Linked DNA regions of Homo sapiens. The protein of the gene in region 3 purifies or fractionates together with the protein of the main gene of each other region. This does not show direct contact. Each region holds a gene or a part of one and is shown on either strand. Other genes may lie near its edges.

Region 1 (3,934 bases), on a different chromosome or scaffold from region 3:
TTAAAAGTTTTAAAATGTCTGGGTGTGGTGGCTCACGCCTGTAATCCCAGCACTTTGGGAGGCCAAGGCAGGAGGATTGCTTGAGCTCAGGAGTTTGAAACAAGCCTGAGTAACATGGCAAAACTCTGTCTCTACAAAATATACAAAAATTAGCCGGGCTTGGTGACATGCCTGTAGTCCCAGCTGCTTGGGAGGTTGAGGTGGGAGGATCGCTTGAGCCTAGGAGGGCGAGGCTGCATCATCCTATGCACCACTGTGGCATAGTGGAAACTCAGGGCTGCGCCACAGCTGCCCTCAGTACCTCACGAATTCTAAGTATAATATTGCTTCTAGTAGGATACTTGCCCCACCCGATGTTAGAGTGTGTTATATCTTGAAACTCTGATAACACCAATCTAAAGGAGCACTTAAGGATCTTCTCATTGGATGGTATACCTAGGCTTAAGGTAGAATAAGTAGAGGTTATTATGGCCATAGATACTGGGTTTGAACCTGGGGTTTGACATTTCTGTGATAGTTGTAGAGAAGTTAATGTGTCCATACAGGCCAGGCGTGGTGGCTCACGCCTGTAATCCCAGCACTTTGGGAGGCCAAGGTGGGCGGATCACCTGAGATGGGGAGTAAAGAGACCAACCTGGCCAACATGGCAAAATCCCGTCTCTACTAAAAATACAAAAATTAGCCAGACATGGTGCACGCCTGTAATCCCATCTACTTAGGAGGCTGAGGCAGGAGAATTGCTTGAGCCCAGGAGGCGGAGGTTGCAGTGAGCTGAGATCTGAGATTGCACCACTGCACTCTAGCCTGGACATCAGAGCAAGACTCCATCTCAAAAAACAAACAAAAGTTAATGTGTCCATATAAAATTGCATAGTATACTGTGACAAAAAGGGTATGGAACTGAATCATCATTTCATTCAGGAACTTTGGATAATAATGTGTTTAGGATTTAGCAATGTTAATTTTGTCAGAGTGTTTATGAGAGATACAAGTAAGTGTTTGCTATTGGAAATAAATCTATAACATAAAACAAAAGTGATTGTGATATGAGATTGGGAGACAGCCTGTGTAGTTTGGTTATGGAAGAGTAAAGAAATGGGGCATAAGTGGTGAGGGGCATGGAGTCCAGAAGATTTTCTTTAGAGATGAGAGGATGCTACATATTTTTTAATGCTGATGAAATTATTAGAGAGAGAATGGAAAATATGTGAATGGTTGAGAATATAATGCCTACTTAGAAAAGATGGCAGACTTTCCCTATCATAAATGTTAGTTTTAGAAACCAAGGAGATCATCTTGTCTTCGGCCCCAAACTGCTGGAAGAAAAGGAAGAAAATATTCCATCTGTAGTTATGAAATGTAACAGGTTTGTCTTGTGGCTCTAATAAATCTTTGGTCTGTGTCCATAGGTTCTTGATAGTCCACAATGGGTGAACCACAGCAAGTGAGTGCACTTCCACCACCTCCAATGCAATATATCAAGGAATATACGGATGAAAATATTCAAGAAGGCTTAGCTCCCAAGCCTCCCCCTCCAATAAAAGACAGTTACATGATGTTTGGCAATCAGTTCCAATGTGATGATCTTATCATCCGCCCTTTGGAAAGTCAGGGCATCGAACGGCTTCATCCTATGCAGTTTGATCACAAGAAAGAACTGAGAAAACTTAATATGTCTATCCTTATTAATTTCTTGGACCTTTTAGATATTTTAATAAGGAGCCCTGGGAGTATAAAACGAGAAGAGAAACTAGAAGATCTTAAGCTGCTTTTTGTACACGTGCATCATCTTATAAATGAATACCGACCCCACCAAGCAAGAGAGACCTTGAGAGTCATGATGGAGGTCCAGAAACGTCAACGGCTTGAAACAGCTGAGAGATTTCAAAAGCACCTGGAACGAGTAATTGAAATGATTCAGAATTGCTTGGCTTCTTTGCCTGATGATTTGCCTCATTCAGAAGCAGGAATGAGAGTAAAAACTGAACCAATGGATGCTGATGATAGCAACAATTGTACTGGACAGAATGAACATCAAAGAGAAAATTCAGGTCATAGGAGAGATCAGATTATAGAGAAAGATGCTGCCTTGTGTGTCCTAATTGATGAGATGAATGAAAGACCATGAAAGATGTTTCTTTTTCTTTTTTTCCTTTTGATAATAGCATCATATATTAGTTCATTTTCTTTTGGACAGTCTTAAGAGAAGTTTCACTAAAAATGTAAACAGCTTTAATCTTGACTCCAAATTTTTCAATTATGAGATGTCATAGGCAGTAATTTCGCTGTATAACAAGCATAGACAAATGAGTGTCCCTGCACTAAGAAGAATCACTTTAAAAAGCAAAGTGTTAGCTGCTGTTGTATGGGACATTCCTATGTTTTAGAGTTGCAGTAAAACTTTGATGATAACCTCAATAATAGCAAAGTTTTCGTCTTTGAAAAGGGGATTTAGCATTTGCTTTAAGAATGATAGATAAATGGATATTAAGCTCTCTACATGTAAAACTATGAAATCTTTAGACTTATTCCATTAAAAATTTTGCTTAAGCTCCAAAAAGTAGCATAACATGTTGATAGAGAGGAGCCCAGTAGAGTTATAAAATAGAAACTTCATTTTTTCCTCATGACTGCTTCTGTAAACCCACTAGCTCAGTCTTTTCTCCCTATCCTGAATGGACTCTTGCAGGGAAGTCCCATAAATTGTTGTTTTTTTTTCCAGTCACTCAGGTAATAAGTCCTTTGGTCACTTTAAGTTACAGACATTAATTTTAGTAATTAAGATGTCTGTGTCATTAGCTATACATTTTCTTTAAAGCTAAGCTCAGACTTGTTTAAGTCCACAATGGGAAAGGGGTTTGATGGCAGAGACTGCTAGGTGTCTACCAAAGATTCTTGCTCTTTGAAGATATGTTGTCAAGATGTGGCAATCCAGCCAGGGACATTTCCCTACTCCCAGCATCTCTGTGAGAACATATGACTAAGTCGTAGGCGGTGAAATGTGGGCATAGGAATCCAGGCTTGCCCCATAAACATTTCTTGCATGATCCTCCATTCTCTTCTCCCAGCTGCTGGTTGGACGGTCGTATCCAGGATAAGTTTGGAAGCCACCGAAGATGGCAAAGATTGTCAGTCTGGTTCTTTGAATGACCGTGAGGACTAAGTCTTCCTTTCAGTAACTCCACTCTGCCCCTAGCTAATTGGACTTTATATGAGCACTTTCTTCTCTTCTTCCCCCGACTGTCCATCTGCTCTTCCACCAAGGTGTTAGTGGAGAGTTGACCTTGTGTCTGAGGATCTCTGCCTGCCGTTTTCTTAATGTAGGCCCGTGGTTCTTAAAGTGTGTGGTCCTGGACCAGCAGCATTGGTATCACTTGGGGACTTACTAGAAATAAAAGTTTTAGTATAATCCGTAGGTTCAGAAAAATAAAAAATAAATGAGGGTTCTCTGGCTCCATCCCAGACCTTTTGAACCAGAAACTTCTGGGTGTAGGTCCCAGCAAGCTGTATTTTAAGAAGCCTATGTGATTATGATACATGCTCAAGATTAAGAAACATTGAGGCTGGGTGCAGTGGCCCACTCCTGTAATCCCAGCACTTCGGGAGGCTGAGGCTGGTGGATCACCTGAAGTCAGGAGTTCGAGACCAGCCTGACCAACATGGGGAAATCCCATCTCTACTAAAATACAAAATTAGCTGGGCTTGGTGGCGCATGCCTGTAATCCCAGCTACTCGGGAGGCTGAGGCAGGGAGAATCACTTGAATCTGGGAGGCAGAGGTTGTGGTGAGCTGAGATTGCACCATTGCACTCCAGCCTAGGCAACAAGAGCGAAACTCCATCTCAAAAACAAAAAAGAACCATTGAGAGGCAATGCCTTTCCCCAGATGTCTACTTTTTTATTTCTTCCTTAGCCCCTGGTTTCTAGCATAGGGA
Region 2 (6,787 bases), on a different chromosome or scaffold from region 3:
CCCTGCCTTTTCTGACCTTGTCTTTTACCACCCTTCCCATCTCACCAGGTTTCTGGTCCCTAAGAACTCACAATCTGTAAATGTAGTAGCATAAGCCATGGGCTGAAATTAAAAGAGGGTATCTGTAAGGAAGGTGTTTCTGGGGTTATTTGAAGGAGGTGATCTTACCTGAGTCTTAGAGTTGCTGTCTTTTATTTAAGGCCTCTTATTTGCCAGGAACAGTGCTAAATGCTTCATATGCATTAACTCATTTATATATATATATTTACCATTCAGGTCGTTCAGCAGACACTTTCATGTTAAGGCTTACTAAGTTGCAAGAAACATATTATAACCACAAAGCAATTCCCTTTTAATGGTTAAAAAAAAAAAACAAAAAAAACAAAAAAAACCAACCCACCTTGAACTCACACCCCTGCTTTGTCTTAAGCAGGTAGAAAGCAATAATGAACCTTTAAAAAAAAAAAAAAGTTTGAGAGGAAAATGTTTCAAACTTCTCTCAAAGTCACTTTTCTGTGTCCAATAACAATTGACTCACGAAGCACATACGTCTTATGTTGCCTGCAGGACCGTTTGCACCTTTTCTGGCTTTTTATCCATTTAATAATCCAAAGAACAGACTTTTAAGAAAAGTAGACTTCAACGAATATTGTATGTATGTAGATTTACAGACTCAGTGTTGGAAGCCTTAGCCACCAACAAGTTTAATCTTACCCACAACGTTGCCGAGAGATGGTCATCTACACTCTGGAGGTTTCCATTGAGCCCGTGTTACTCTGTCAGGGACAGCTGATTCGATTGTTAGCCAGATATTAGAAAGTTCTTCCTTATATTGTGATATAATGTACCTCCTTGTAGCCCCAGTCTGTTTGTCCCTGGATGAAGCTAGAACCATTCTATACCCTCTTGAGGACAACAGCCTTCCAGATATTTACATTCAAGAGAGACTGCAAATTAGCCCCTTTTGGGTGTTTTATTCAGTCTGCAGAAGATTTTAGTTTTTTTAATACTTGCCAACATTTAAAGATCAGAAAGTTGTATATAACAAATGCAGATTTCCAGCTACTCTTTCAAATCTGGAAGATCTAGTAACCATAGATCTTAATTCTCCCAAGTCAACAACTGGGCTGAAGCTGAGAGCAGCTGTCACTACTAGCTGCTTTCCACCTGGTGGAAGAGACACTTTCTACCACTTGGCCTGCTTCATTGATAGCCAGTAGGTGCCACTATAACATCTCTCTTCCATCTATTTTTCTCAACTACCCTCTGCCATTGTGCCATGGTGTCCAGAGTTCTCATGAGTTGAGGTTCCCTCCTTTGGATATTTGGCAGTTGTACTTTATGCAGTTCAGCCAAGAACTAAACACAGGCCTTCAGGTGTGGTCAGAGTACAGTGGGCCAGAGGTCCTTTCTTTTCTTCATGTGGTCATACACCTCTGTTAATTCAACTTAAGTTTATATTACTTTTGGGGGTGGGAGTGGGGAAGAGGATCACATTGTTGACTTGCTGGAAGCATTATGTCAACTAAAATCCTTCAGTTCTTATTTTCATCATGCTGTTGGGTTCTCCCTATGTTGTTTCTTTTTAAAAACACCAAATGCAGAACTTCCCTTTTATACTGCTTCTATTTCATCTTGTTGACTTGTAGCCTATCAGAGTATGATTCTTTATTGTCATCTAAGGTATTCTGATATAATCACTGCATGTCTAAATTCTAGTTATTGACTAAATGCTACTTGAGACCATTCTCTTGGTTGTCACATTATTTTACAGTTGAAGAAACTGAACCTTAGAGAGGTTAAGTACCTTGTTAAAGGCCACCTGGCTGGAACATAACATCCTGGTCATTTTAACTACTAATGCTGTCATGAAAGGGAGTTAGCCAGGGCAGGTGTGAATAGAGCATTCTAGCATAAGCAGCCAACAATTAGAGCAACTGTGTATTTTTAGTGTGTGGATAGCAAATCTTTGCTGTCTTGGAAGTTACTATCTTAGAAGCATGGTATTAAGCCCTCTATTCAATGTGGTGTTCACATCAGTAGCATTGGTTTCATTTGGGAGCTTTTTAGAAATGCAGAGCTCAGGCCCCACTCCAGGCCTAAGGATTCAATCTGCATTTTAAGAAGTGACCCATATACACATTAAAGTTTTAGAAGCATTGCTGTAGTATCCTATTTTCCACACTTTAGTCATTTGCATATCACTTGTGCAACTTTGGCTTTATCTGCATACTTCCTGAAGGGGGCCTGCCCCTCCACACCTGTGGGTATTTCTCGTCAGGTGGAGATGAAAGAATGAGAAAAGAAATAAGACACAAAGTATAGAGAAAGAACAGTGGGCCCAGGGGACCGGCACACTCAGCATGCGAGGACCCGCACCAGTGCCGGTCTCTGAGTTCCTTCAGTATTTATTGATCATTATTTTTACTGTCTTGGCGAGGCGAGTGTAGCAGGGCAACAGGTGGCGAGAAGGTCAGCAGGGAAACGTGAGCAAAGGAATCTGTATCATGAATAAGTTCAAGGAAAGGTACTGTGCCTGGATGTGCACATAGGCTAGATTTATGTTTCACTTTACACAAATATCTAACTAGCAGAGAGCAACAAAGCAGTATTGCTGCCAGCATATCTCGCCTCCAGCCACAGGGCGGTTTTCTCCTATCTCAGAATAGAACGAATGGGAATGGTCGACTTTACACTAAGACATTCCATTCCCAGGGACGAGCAGGAGACAGAAGCCTTCATCTTATCTCAACTGCAAAGAGGCCTCCCTCTTTCACTACTCCTCCTCAGCACAGACCCTTTACAGGTGTCGGGCTGGGGGATGTAAGGTCTTTCCTTTCCCACGAGGCCATATCTCAGGCTGTCTCAGTTGGGGGAAACCTGGACAATACCCAGGCTTTTCTGGGCAGGGGTCCCTGCGGCCTTCCGCAGTGCATTGTGTCTCTGGTTAATCGAGAATGGAGAATGGCGATGGCTTTTACCAAGCATACTGCCTGCAAACATATTGTTAACAAGGCACATCCTGCACAGCCCTAAATCCATTAAACCTTGATTCAATATAGCACATGTTTCTGGGGGCACAGAGTTGGGGCTAAATTTACAGATTAACAGCATCTCAAAGCAGAACAATTTTTCTTAGTACAGATCAAAATGGAGTTTCTTATGTCTTCCTTTTCTACGTAGACACAGGAACAATCTGATCTCTTTTCCCCACACTTCCTATATGTTAATGTATTTTAATTGTCTGTTAGCTTTTATGTCTTTTCAACTTGAAATAATTTCACTTACAAAATAGCTGGAAAAATAGTAAAGATAATTCCTGTATTTTGTTCACCCACGTATTCCAAATGTGTAACACTACAATCAGCAAAAATCAGCACATTAATATTATTACCTAATCTACAGACCTCATTCACATTTTGCCAGTTGTTCTGCTGGTGTGCTGTATGTAGTGCAGGATCCAGTCTAGGCCCGTATGTTGCATTTTGCTGTCATGTCTTCTTAGTCTCCTTTCATCTCAGTGGTCTTTTCTTTTCCATGACTATGACAGAAATGATTTGTATCCTTCATATATCTGCAGTCACATGAAGTCTATTTGTCCCACTACTGGTGACGTAAATTTTGGTAACTTGGTTGAGGGTGGTACCGTCTAGGTTTCTCCATATTAAGTTGCTATTTTTCCTTGTGTATTTAATAAGTATCTTATAGGGAAATCCTTTGAGACTATGTAAATATCATATTACATGTATTTTGCCTGTTTTAGCATCTTTTGAAGATAATTGCCTGAAACATTTTTTACTGTGATGATTTTCTAATTCTATCATTCTGCATTTATTAGTTTGGAATTCGATTGTAAGGAATTATATTCCCTTGTTTCCTATTATTTTATTAAAGAAATTTACATCCATTTAGTGTGGACTTTTGGATTCTTATTTTTAGTAGAATTATGAATTAGAATTATGTATTTTCTTGCGCTAAGTATTCCAGATTTGGCCATTGGGAGGCCCTTCAAGTTGGCTCCTGAATACTTTTGATCCTCCCAGGAATTTTTAGCACTTTTTCTTCTGGCACTACGTAATGTTCCAGGCTCATCTTGTACTTTTCCTGTCTTATCCCTGAATCACCCTTTTCTCCAAGGAAACCTGCTCCTTGGAAACCACAGTCTGGTCATTGTGTGTTCATTAGTACCACAGTGTCATTGCTTCTAGGCCCTGTCAGTACACAAAGCTCAAGAACTATATATATATGTATGTATGTGTATACATGCACACACATATACATGTTTATTCTATGTCTATATTAAAAGCCGTAAGTACATACTGATGTTTTCAATACCAGCTCAGTAACACAGGGTTCATTCTAGCCTTTTTCCTTTCCATGTCTATAACTCCTTTTCTGATAGCCAGAAATTTGGCTGTCCTTATCCACAGTATATTTGCTTGTCCAATCCTAGAGTATATCTAATTTCAGAATTGGTATATCCCTGTGGACAACAAGAGTACAATGTATGCGCATAGTCCTCTTTCACACTCACTTTTAAATGAAAGTTGTCTTTTTATCCCTATTGAAGGAAAAATGAGTAACTATCAATTAAACACATAATTACTAAAATATGTTCATGTTCTTCACGTTGGAAACCGCTAGAAGGGAATAGCATGGTTTGTCCCTAAATTTTCACTCTGCTTACCAGTTACTGTGTTGTGTGGTCTTGAGCAAGTTAATTTAATCTTTCTGAACTTAAACCTTCTCATTTTCGAAAATATTGAACACTGACCTTTGATGACTAATCGGGGAAAAAACCCTATGCTACCAGAGTGTACTAAGTTACTGTTATAGAAATGGTAGGCTACAAGATCGTTTTTAAGAGAATAACTGAATTATACCTTGGCATTATTTACCTAAATTATGTTGTTCATTCACTTACAAACTTAAACCCAGGTACCCTCAGTGTTTACACATGTTAGAGCTGCTCCAATATGAACACTTCCGAAAGGAGCTGGTGAATGCTCAGTGTGCGAAATTTATTGATGAACAGCAGATTCTACATTGGCAGCACTATTCCCGGAAGCGGATGCGCCTTCAGCAAGCCTTGGCAGAGCAGCAACAGCAAAATAACACATCGGGAAAATGAAAAACTGGATACAAACGAGGCACTTAATACATGTATATAATGTATTTCTTTTGTACAGTGAAGACAAAAAAAATGAAAACTCTTCCTATCTACCTTTATTATGGTAGCCCCTAGAACCTTTAGTGTGCTTTTTCATCCAACTTTTTATTGTTAATAGACTATTTCTGTTAAACCTGAATTGTTCTTTGATTTCCCTGTGGATTTGTAAGGTGTTTTTCTTTTTTACGCATTTAGCATAATCAGCTGATTAAGAATGGAAAAGTTAGGTGCTTTAGACCAAATAAGGCACTGGGGCATGGGGTAGGGGTGGGCCACCAAGTATACTGAATTCTAAGGCTAGCTGTTCCTGACATATAGTAGGGCAAGACCATCTCCTGGAACCTTACTGTCTCAGATCAACTACTCTACCACTCTACTCTAAGATGTAGTGAGAGTAGCGGAGTCACTGACCTCTTTAAATCATAGGACAGGAACTGCATAAAGGTTCTTGAATTCTGCAGGACAGGAAATAACTGTATTACCTGCTTTGCAAGGTGGCTTTAAGAATCACTGAATCACTGTGGCCTCACTTGACCTAGTCATGGCAGGACAACTAGTGGTTAGTTACTAACTGGACTCTTGACTTTAGAACAAACATGAGGAGCCTCAAATACTTGTGTTCATTTGGGAAAGCTACCATTGATTTGGGAGGTACCACAAACCAGGTGCTATGTTAAGTGCTTCCTTGAATTCTCATTTTATTCTAAGAACCTTGTTTATAGAAGAGAAAACTGAGGTTTGGACGGGGTGAGTAACTTGCCTGTGGTTACACAGCTAGTAAGTGGTAGAGTCAGTGTGACTGACTCCCAGCTTGGAGTTCTTCCCAGAACTGGGTTATAGAGTCTTTCCGGCCGCTCTCCGCCACCTGCCTCATCCCAAGTAAAGCACATTGAGACAGCTGCAAAACAAACTGCTTCTAGTGCTCAGGAGTCTGTTTTTTATTAAACAAAACAAAACTGCCTGAATTAAGCAGAGGCTAGATTAGAGGTCATGTGCTTTCCTTCAGTGGTGAGGTTAGGTTCTACATTCCAAAATCAAAGAAGGGGTTTCAGGAATATCATCAGTTGCTTTGCAGATGGAGATAACTTAAAATAAAAGATACTGATCTTTTGAGAGATTTGGAAGGTGTGCTCTGCACCTTTAGGAGTTTTTAGGTATTTCCGTCACCTTCAAGAATACGTTCCTTTGAGCCTTTACTGCTATTTCTGAAGACTTCTTTATATCTTAAAAATATCCATGTATTACAGGCAAACTAAAGGTTCATGGGCATTTTAATAGCACTCTATTGTTTAGACACATGCCAGTTTTTTTAACATCATTTATTGCTAACATGAATTCAAAGCAAGTATACAGTTTATTGATACTAGAACAAATCAGGACATCAAGACATGATTGCCATCCTAAAATCTTAATCTTCAGAGAACAACATTTCCACCAGGTTGGCCTGAAGACACTCAGATTCTACCAGTTTTTGAGGCTGTAAGAGAAAAACAGTCAAATCTTCACTACTTCTATAAAACGTTATTAGGAGTGGAATGAGTTCTGCCTTGAATGACACTCATCTTTGAACACAGAAATTACGCAATTCAGAAACTATCATCTAGTTATAACAAGTTT
Region 3 (8,985 bases):
GAGAGGCTTTTTCTTGTTGTTGCAGTTGTTTTTGTTTTTGCTTGGCAGGGTTAGGGGTGCTTTTTTACTGGATGGATTGTTAGGCCACTTTGGTTATCATAAGATAAGGAGACAAAATATTTTAAATAAAATAACATCCTTTTATGAGATGAGAAAGCACAAACCCATGAAAATATGCTCTCCTGGATGCTTCTCTCTACGTTCTTTGTTATTTTATGAAAAGTTACAAAATTTTAATCAACTTTACTATGTAATTTAAATGCCTGAAATTAGGTGCTGTATCTCACAGGGTTGCTGAACTTAATTTTCATATGATAATTGATGTTAATGAATGTTGCATCTTCTAATGTTGCAAATATTCTTTGATATTTTCTAAAAAGGATTACAAACTACAGATTTGTTTCAAGTTCAATTGTTATGTGATGTCAAAGCCTAGACAACTTGCAGAATGGGAGAAAGTTTTATAAATCATATATTTGATAAGGGATTAGTATCTAGACTATGTAAAGAACTCCTGCAACTCAGCAGCAACAACAAAACAACCTGATTCAAAAATGGGCAAAAGACATACTAAATAGACATTTCTCCAAAGACGATCTACAAATGGTCAGTAAGCACATGAAAAGATGTTCGACACCATTATTGACTAGGCAAATGCAAACCAAAACCATAGTGAGATACTACTTCATACTCATTAGGATATATGTTAATTTTTAAGGGAAAAAAGGGAGAAATAACCAGTGTTGGTGAGGATATGAAGAAATTGGAACCTTCATACATTGCAGATGGGAATGTAAAATGGTACAGCTGCAAGTTTGGTGGTTTCTCAGAAAGTTAAACACAGAGCAATCATTTGATCCAGGATTTCCACTTTTAGGTTTATGCTCAAAGCATTGAAAGCAGGGACTTTCATCAGATAGTGTATACCACTGTTCATAGCAGCATTAATCACAATAACCAGAGGTGAAAACAATCCATGAACATCAACAGATGAATGGATAAACAAAATGTGATATCTATATATATATCTATATAGATATATATATAGATATGCATAGAGTGGAGTATATTTATCCATAAAGAATGAAATAGGCTAAGTGAAATAAGCCTGGCATGAAAGGATACATATTGTATGGTTCCACTTACATGAAATATCTAGATTAGGAAGATTCTTAGGGACAGATAGTAGAGTAGAGGTTACCAGAGCCTTGGGGAAAAAGGCGGTGGGATTATTGTGTAACGCAGGGGTCCCTGCGTCAGCACCGGTACGTTAGGAATTGGGCCGTACAGCAGGAGGTGAGCCACAGGCAAGCGAGCATTACCACCTGAGCTCTGCCTCCTGTCAGATTAGCAGTGGCATTAGATTCTCATAGGAGCTTGAACACTATTGTGAACTGCGCATGTGAAGGATCTAGGTTGCATGCTCCTTATGAGAATCTAATGCCTAATGAATGATCTGAGGTGAAACGGTTTCATCTTGAAACCATCCACCATCTGCCCCTTCCCCCAGCCCCCGCCCTGCACCTCCACCCCATTATCCGTGGAAAATTTGTCTTCCTCAAAAATGGTTTCTGATGCCAAAAAGGTTGGGAACCGCTGGTTTAATGGATTCAGAGTTTCTGTTTGGGATGACAAAAAAAATTCTAAAATGGATAGTGGTGGTGATCGCAGAACATTGTGAATATACTTATAGGATGCCACTGAATTGTACACTTAAAAATGATTAAAATGGTCTTTTTATGTTAGATATATTTTACCACAATCAAAAAATTAAAATAACCAACCAAACAACAACAAAATAGATTTACTCAGATAATACCTGTTCAGTGTCTTTTCCTCACAGATATCTTCTCATTTGTTACTGAAGTATCCGTCTCAGAATTGTGTGGGTGCTTATTAGATGTTTAAGATTGTTTACCTGTGGGTTTGTATTGCCTTTGAATTACAAATGGTGTGGGGTTTTTTACATTATTTTTGTGACAGAAATAGTTAATGCATCTCCTTTGTTTTGCAGTTACTTCGAGAGCTTAAGCATCCAAACGTCATTTCTCTTCAAAAGGTGTTTCTGTCTCATGCTGATAGGAAGGTGTGGCTTCTGTTTGACTATGCTGAACATGACCTCTGGGTAAGGTGAATTGCTGGCAGACATGAGCAAACAGTCAGGGATTGTTAAGAGTAACTAAAAACAGTTAGGTGTTCTGCTTATTATGAGACTTATGTTTTTAAAATAAAAGTAACCTCATAGAGTGTGGTTGGTGGCATGACGAAGGCTAGAGTATTTGACTTTGTATTATTACTTTTCAATATTGTCACTTTGATCTTTTAACAGATACTAAAGAAAACAATAGAATCTAAAGAGTGTTCAACAACTATTCAATATTGCTTCATATAGTTTTTTGATAAAATAAAAAGTAACTAATATATATAAAATTTTGCTCTAAAATAGAAAAGTAGCATATTTCCTTTTATTTCGTTGTATAAAGGGAACATAAAATGAGAAGGTGGTATCCTCATGTAGGAGGACGAATATGCTATCTTTGGAGAGATCTAATAGTTCTACCATTATTTGTCGTATAGCATTAAGCAAGTCTTTTAATGGCTTTGAAGCTGTAGTTTACCCCATCTGTAAAATGTAATACTTTCTTGCCTTTTTTAACAACGTTTTTCTGAGGAACAATCTTGTATTTGAAAAGTTTTATAAATATACAAATGTAGGAAACTGTTATTAATTATTAACTATTCACAATTGAATTTAATATCCTAATTCTTATTTTCAGTGGCAGTAGTTCAATACAGTATAGTCATGCGCCATATAATGTTATTGTCAACTAGGGACTGCATATATGATAGTGGTCTCCTAAGATTATAGTACCATATTGTTACTGTACCTTTTCTATGTTTACATATGTTTAGATAACACACTTATTTACTATTGTGTCACAATTGCCTTCCTTATTCAGTACAGTAACATGTACAGGTTTGTAGCCTAGGAGCAGGAGGCTATAACATATAGCCTAGGTTTGTAGTAGAGTCTATCATCTAGGTTTGTGTAAGTACAGTCTGTGATGTTTACACAACTGCAAAATTGCCTAACGACACATTTTTCAGAATGTATCCCTTCATTAAGTGATGCATGACTGTATTGTACTTACTTGAATTGGGCATAATCTTGCATTGGAGGAATTTTTTGTGGATGAGAGCTCTATTACAAAATAAGATTCGTGTGAAAATAAATTTTAATATCTCTTGGGACTTTTAGTTCTTTGTTTTCTGACCTATGATAAGAATAGTTTTAGGCCAAGTGTAGTGGGTCACACCTGTAGTCCCAACACTTTGGGAGGCCAAGACAGGAAGATCACTTGAGCCAAAGTGTTTGAGACAAGCCTGGGTCACATGGCAAGACCCTGTCTCTGCAAAAAATAAAAAAAATTAGCTGGGCTCAGTGGCACATGCTGTGGTCCCAGCTGTTCATGGGGCTGAAGCTCAGGAAGTCGAGGCTGCAGTGGGTCCTGTTTGCACTGTTGCACTCCAGCCCGGCTAATTTTTGTATTTTTAGTAGAGACAGGGTTTCACCATGTTGGCCAGGCTGGTCTCTTAACTCCTGATGTCAGGTGATCTGCCCACCTCGGCCTCCCAAAGTGCTGAGATTACAGGCCTGAGCCACTGAGCCCAGCCAGTTTATTAGTTTATCTAATGCATTGCAGAAAATGATGCTATATTGAAAAAAATTACTGTAAAATAAGAACTTAATTTTATCTTGTCTGAGTAGCTGAAATACAAACACCAGCCTCAGTATTTTGCAGTTTACTAAGCAGATTATTTTTTAAATTGGTATTTGAGGAACTCTAAGGTAACTATAAAATTTGCTCTTTTATTAAATATAACATTTATATATTTTTTAAAAATCTGAAACGTTACCTTGCAGATAAAACTTTGAGATATATATATAGAAAATCTATAATAGGATAGCCAAAGTAATTTTGAAACATAGTAACAAAATTGACATTCTTATCAATCTGTATAGAGAACATCTGTTAATACAGATTATAGTTTAAGAAACAAGTAAACTAAACATCTAACATTACCTTGTGTTAATTCATTAAGAATTACTATACTCCTGTGAACTGCTTTTTAAATGATATTTAATAATGTCTTTAAACATTGTATTGATTTGCATACTAATCTATATTTACTAAATTAGCATGGCTATGCTTTTTATTATGTATACATGAAATTTTCTCTCTTTTATGAAACTCTTTCCAAAGTTCATGCTGGTTATTAATTTCTTCTTTTTTTTTAAATCTTTGGTTCTTCTGTTCTTCTATTTTAAAAGAAATCTAATCAGATCAACCCTGTTAAATCAGCGTGGCCAGTATTAAATTGAACACTCACTATGCTGAGCCTCATAAGAAATAAAGTCATATAATTTAAACTTAAGGCATTTTCCAGGCTGGTTTATAAACAAGATTTGTGATAAACCACAGTAGAGCATAGAAGATAGTATAATATTTCACTCAATGTGATTTCTAGCTGCTAGTTTGTAATATTTAATTTTACATGTAGGTACAATGATTATACTTCAGCAAATTTTATTGTGGGTAATATTGTACAGTGCATATAACTAGTTCATTAGCTTTATCATCATCTTAATAATATTTAAGCCAAATAAATATTTTTAATGTTCATTTTCATAAAAAACAAATGATAATTTAGCCTACTAAAACCCACTCCTTTATCTATTTTAATTGGAATGTTGAAGTGAATTGGTAGGGGTTAGGCAGCAGAGGGTAACAAGGCAGTCGCAATAAAAATAGTTATTTTTAAAAATCACTTAGGCGTTGGTGAGATTTCATGGTATGTATATTTTGCATTTGTTATGTAGCCCTGGAATATAAAGAAAATGACAGTAGGATTTGTCATTTTAAAACATTGGTAAAAAAAGTCACTTGTAATACTCTAATGAAAGTGTACATGAAGAAATATATATGAAATTGATTAATTACCTTACCTCTCCTACATATTTGTTCCTTTGATTCTTACTGCGGCAGAGTTTTAATTTTTTTTTTTTCAAAAAATTAACCTATTTTATTTTTATTTATATTTATTTTACCTGTTTTTATTAAGCTTGGAGAGAGCCAAAGAATCTTCTTCTTGTTTTTTTTGTTTGTTTGTTTTTGAGATGGAGTCTCGCTCTGTCGCCCAGGCTGGAGAGCGGTGGCAGGATCTCCACTCACTGCAAGCTCCGCCTTCCAGGTTCACGCCATTCTCCTACCTCAGCCTCCCGAGTAGCTGGGACTACAGGTGCCTGCCACCACTCCCGGCTAATTTTTTGTATTTTTTAGTAGAGACGGGGTTTCACCGTGTTAGCCAGGATGGTCTTGATCTCCTGACCTCGTGATCCACCCGCCTCAGCCTCCCAAAGTTCTGGGATTACAGGCGTGAGCCACCATGCCCGGCCCAAGAATCTTCTTCTTAAGGAGAACAGACTTGATTGTCACATCATATTTTAGGACAGGTGACAAAACAGCCTAGATTATTAAATTGTTGTAGCTCTGTTTTGTTTGCCTGCTATTAAATACTTTGAAAAAAAGACTGAGAAGAAAATTAAAGTAGATTAATGCTGCTAATTTAGATTAGTCATACTACATATGTGCAAACTGCTACACTTTACCTTCTCGTAGATATTTGCTATATATTTTTACCTTGGAGAGTAAAGCTCCTTTATTCATTAATCATTAGTTATTCCTTACTTGTGTCATATTCTGTATATCATAAGAAAATAGCAAGTGAAAATGTTAACTTATAATGTTAAATATCTCTTATTTTTATTATGTCTACTAATTTCAAGAACATGCTTAATATTTACTTACATGTATTGGCCAAGGGTCTGCTCTGTGCAATATTAGGTTCAGGGATATGTACAGTGGTGTGCAAGGCATAGTTTACTGCAGCCGAGTTATAGATTTTCCTGCAATTTAAGAGTGATCTAATTAAGAAAATGAGTCCTATCAAGAGCATTTGAAACTTTTCAAGAAAAAACTTGTAAGGCACATTTATTCATAAAGTAATTTTTCTATGTATAAAGTTGTGCTTTGTTTTACTGGATGTCTAACAACATTATACATAGAAAGCTTTGATGGATGGTACAAGGCAGTTTTTATTTTCCTCAGAATCTTTCCCATTTTTACATTTTTCCATTGTGAACTGGTATATCATTTCTTTGTGCTTGTGTGTATTTTATTGAAGCATCTCCCCACTTGCTTTCTTTATAACCTGTGTCATAAATAGGTTCTAATTCTATGCTATGTCAACCAGCCAGAAGTATCTCTTGAATTTTGTTCTTTTTTTTTTTTCATTTTATCTACCAGATAAACAGGAATCAAGTATACTCTGAAAGTAATTGATTTTTAATTATGCTTTAAAAATAAAAGCACAATATTTTCTGATTCCCTATTGTGATAATTTATCTCCTGAAATGCTGTCATATGGGTAGGAAATGGAATTTTAGCCCCAGTTATTAGGGAATTTTAAAGTTGTTTATGTTATTCAGCAGAGTACGAAATTATATTTTCAATATCTATGGGAATCCCTGAGTGTTTCTTTTTCTGTTAGGAAAATATTATACATCAAATTATCTTTTCCTTTTTTTAAGCTTCTGTTGATATTTTTTTCTTTCTTTCAGCATATAATCAAGTTTCACAGAGCTTCTAAAGCAAACAAGAAGCCAGTTCAGTTACCTCGGGGAATGGTGAAGTCACTATTATATCAGATCCTAGATGGTATTCACTACCTGCATGCTAACTGGGTGTTGCACAGAGATTTGGTAAGTTGACCTGTAATTGGTTTAAACTAGAAAGATGCATTACAGTTGGATACTTTTCTAGTCGTCTGTAGATACCAGTGCTATATGTAGGCCTGCAAACCTTATAGAAGTAGTGAGAATGCTACCTTCTCAAAACATGGCCTAGTAGTGTTTTTATATAATGCCTCCTGCTTCTCTGACATACACTAGATGGTATTTATTTCAAAGTGAAAGAAGAGACATTTGTGTTCCTAAGCTTCTGTTTCCTTTTAAGTTCATAAATAAAGCATTGGCTTGCTTTAAATTGATTATTAGATACAAGGCCAACTGTAGAAATTTATATATTTATAATAACTTGAAAATAAAATTTTGGGAGCCTACTGCATACTAATTTACATATTAGAAAAGGAAAATGTTAATTCAATATGCTTATATTTTAAGCCCCTCTATATTAGCAGTCTGTTGGCCAATCACCTTTATTAATCATAATTGAAGTATATTATTAGAAGCCTTGCTGTGTTCAGGTGCATTGAACTTTTGAGAATTTAAAAACTTAAGAAACTGACTTTTTAATTTTACGTTGCAAAGTCATTTATGCCTTTTTTCACCCATCTTGCACAGGGGTCCCCAACCCCCAGGCCACAGACCAGTCCATGGCTCATTAGGGACCAGGCCACACAGCAGGAGGTGAGCGGTGGGTGAGCATTACCACCTGAGCTCCGCCTCCTGTCAGATCAGTGGCAGCATTAGATTCTCATAGGAGCCAGAACCCTATTGTGAACTGCACATGCGGGGGATCTAGATTGCACGCTCCTTATGAGAATCTAGCTAATGCCTTATGATCTGAGGTGGTACAGTTTCATACTGAAACCATCCCCTCCCACCCCGCTCCGTGGAAAAACTTCTTCCATGAAACTGGTCCCTGATGCCAAAAAGGTTGGGGACTGCTGGTCTAGCATATTATTATTCATTAAATTTTCATGGATTTAAATTACCTAAACTTCAAATTGCCCTTTCTTACTACATAATTACATTGCTTTTATAGTTCTTTTCTTTGTAAAGATAGTAACTATATAATAAGGTTTATAAAGGCACCTTCATTTCAAACAAATATAAACACAATGCTAAAAGTGATTATTTTGTCTCTAATCACCTGTATACAAAGGAAATATCCTGTAGGCTATGAGGCGGAGCCCATCTGGTCTCTCGCAAAGATGTTCTTCACAAATTTAGTGGATTTAGTCTCTGGCCTTCAATGTGCTGTTCCAGTGGCACAGTTTATACTTCTTTCTTCTAGCTTTAGGGAATTGCCTTGTAGTACATTTGATGTTAGTTACTTTATCTCCAGTTCTCATACCTACAAAGCATTTAGACTAGGACCAGTAACAGCAGAAATTTGGTTGAACTTGTTTCTTTATGCAAACTTTTATTTTTAATACAGTTAGAATATTTCACTTATAAAAATAGATTTACAGGCCAGGCACAGTGGTTCATGCCTATAATCCCAGCACTTTGGGAGGCCAAGGCGGGTGGATCACGAGGTCAGGAGTTCAAGATCAGGCTGGCCAAGATGGTGAAACCCCGTCTCTACTAAAAATACAAAAAATTAGCTGGGTGTGGTGGTGGGCACCTGTAATCCCAGCTACTCGGGAGGCTGAGGCAGAGAATTACTTGAACGCAGGAAGCTGAGGTTGCAGTGAGCCAAGATCGCGCCACTTCACTCCAGCCTGGGCGACAGAGCGAAACTCCATCTCTAAAAAATAAAAGAAAACAAAAAATAGATTTACATAACAGAAATAAGACAAATCCTTTGGCATTTTGTGAAGCTCAAAATAAATTTTGGCCATTGGGGTGGAGTCAAGTTAGGGAAAAACATTTCTACTTTTGAGCTACCAGTCCTTTTTATGATCTCTAAAAGAAAAAACTGTGGCTTAAGGACATTTTTTTCCCCGTAGAGTCAGTTATGCTAAGATAGCTCTACATTTTCTTTTTCTTGTAAATTTTTTTTTCACTTGAAATACATATGTATATTAGGTAAATACAGACTGGTTTTTAAAACCAATATTTAAATTTCATGTAATAATATAAATATACTTAAGCCACTTAGATTAGTATTAAGTATGGTAGTGAAAATTATGATACCGAGTTTCTTTTATCTCTCTTATGGTAAAGCTCTTCCTGCT

The links. The genes of interacting proteins can lie anywhere in the genome.
Region 1: the proteins of CDK8 (region 3) and MED7 purify together in Homo sapiens (affinity purification with mass spectrometry; 9 studies listed by BioGRID and IntAct, with this or other methods). This does not show direct contact.
Region 2: the proteins of CDK8 (region 3) and MED31 purify together in Homo sapiens (affinity purification with mass spectrometry; 7 studies listed by BioGRID and IntAct, with this or other methods). This does not show direct contact.

Annotation. Positions count from the first base shown.
Region 1 is NC_000005.10:157,136,924-157,140,857, reverse strand, and holds the end of MED7 (mediator of RNA polymerase II transcription subunit 7), read left to right. Parts: intron 1-1,409; 5' UTR 1,410-1,426; coding exon 1,427-2,128; 3' UTR 2,129-3,434; downstream 3,435-3,934. UniProt on the Homo sapiens protein: Component of the Mediator complex, a coactivator involved in the regulated transcription of nearly all RNA polymerase II-dependent genes.
Region 2 is NC_000017.11:6,642,811-6,649,597, reverse strand, and holds the end of MED31 (mediator of RNA polymerase II transcription subunit 31), read left to right. Parts: intron 1-4,938; coding exon 4,939-5,131; 3' UTR 5,132-6,287; downstream 6,288-6,787. Other genes in the region: TXNDC17 (thioredoxin domain-containing protein 17), read right to left, coding at 6,579-6,647. UniProt on the Homo sapiens protein: Component of the Mediator complex, a coactivator involved in the regulated transcription of nearly all RNA polymerase II-dependent genes.
Region 3 is NC_000013.11:26,347,058-26,356,042, forward strand, and holds part of CDK8 (cyclin-dependent kinase 8), read left to right. Parts: intron 1-2,014; coding exon 2,015-2,125; intron 2,126-6,682; coding exon 6,683-6,823; intron 6,824-8,985.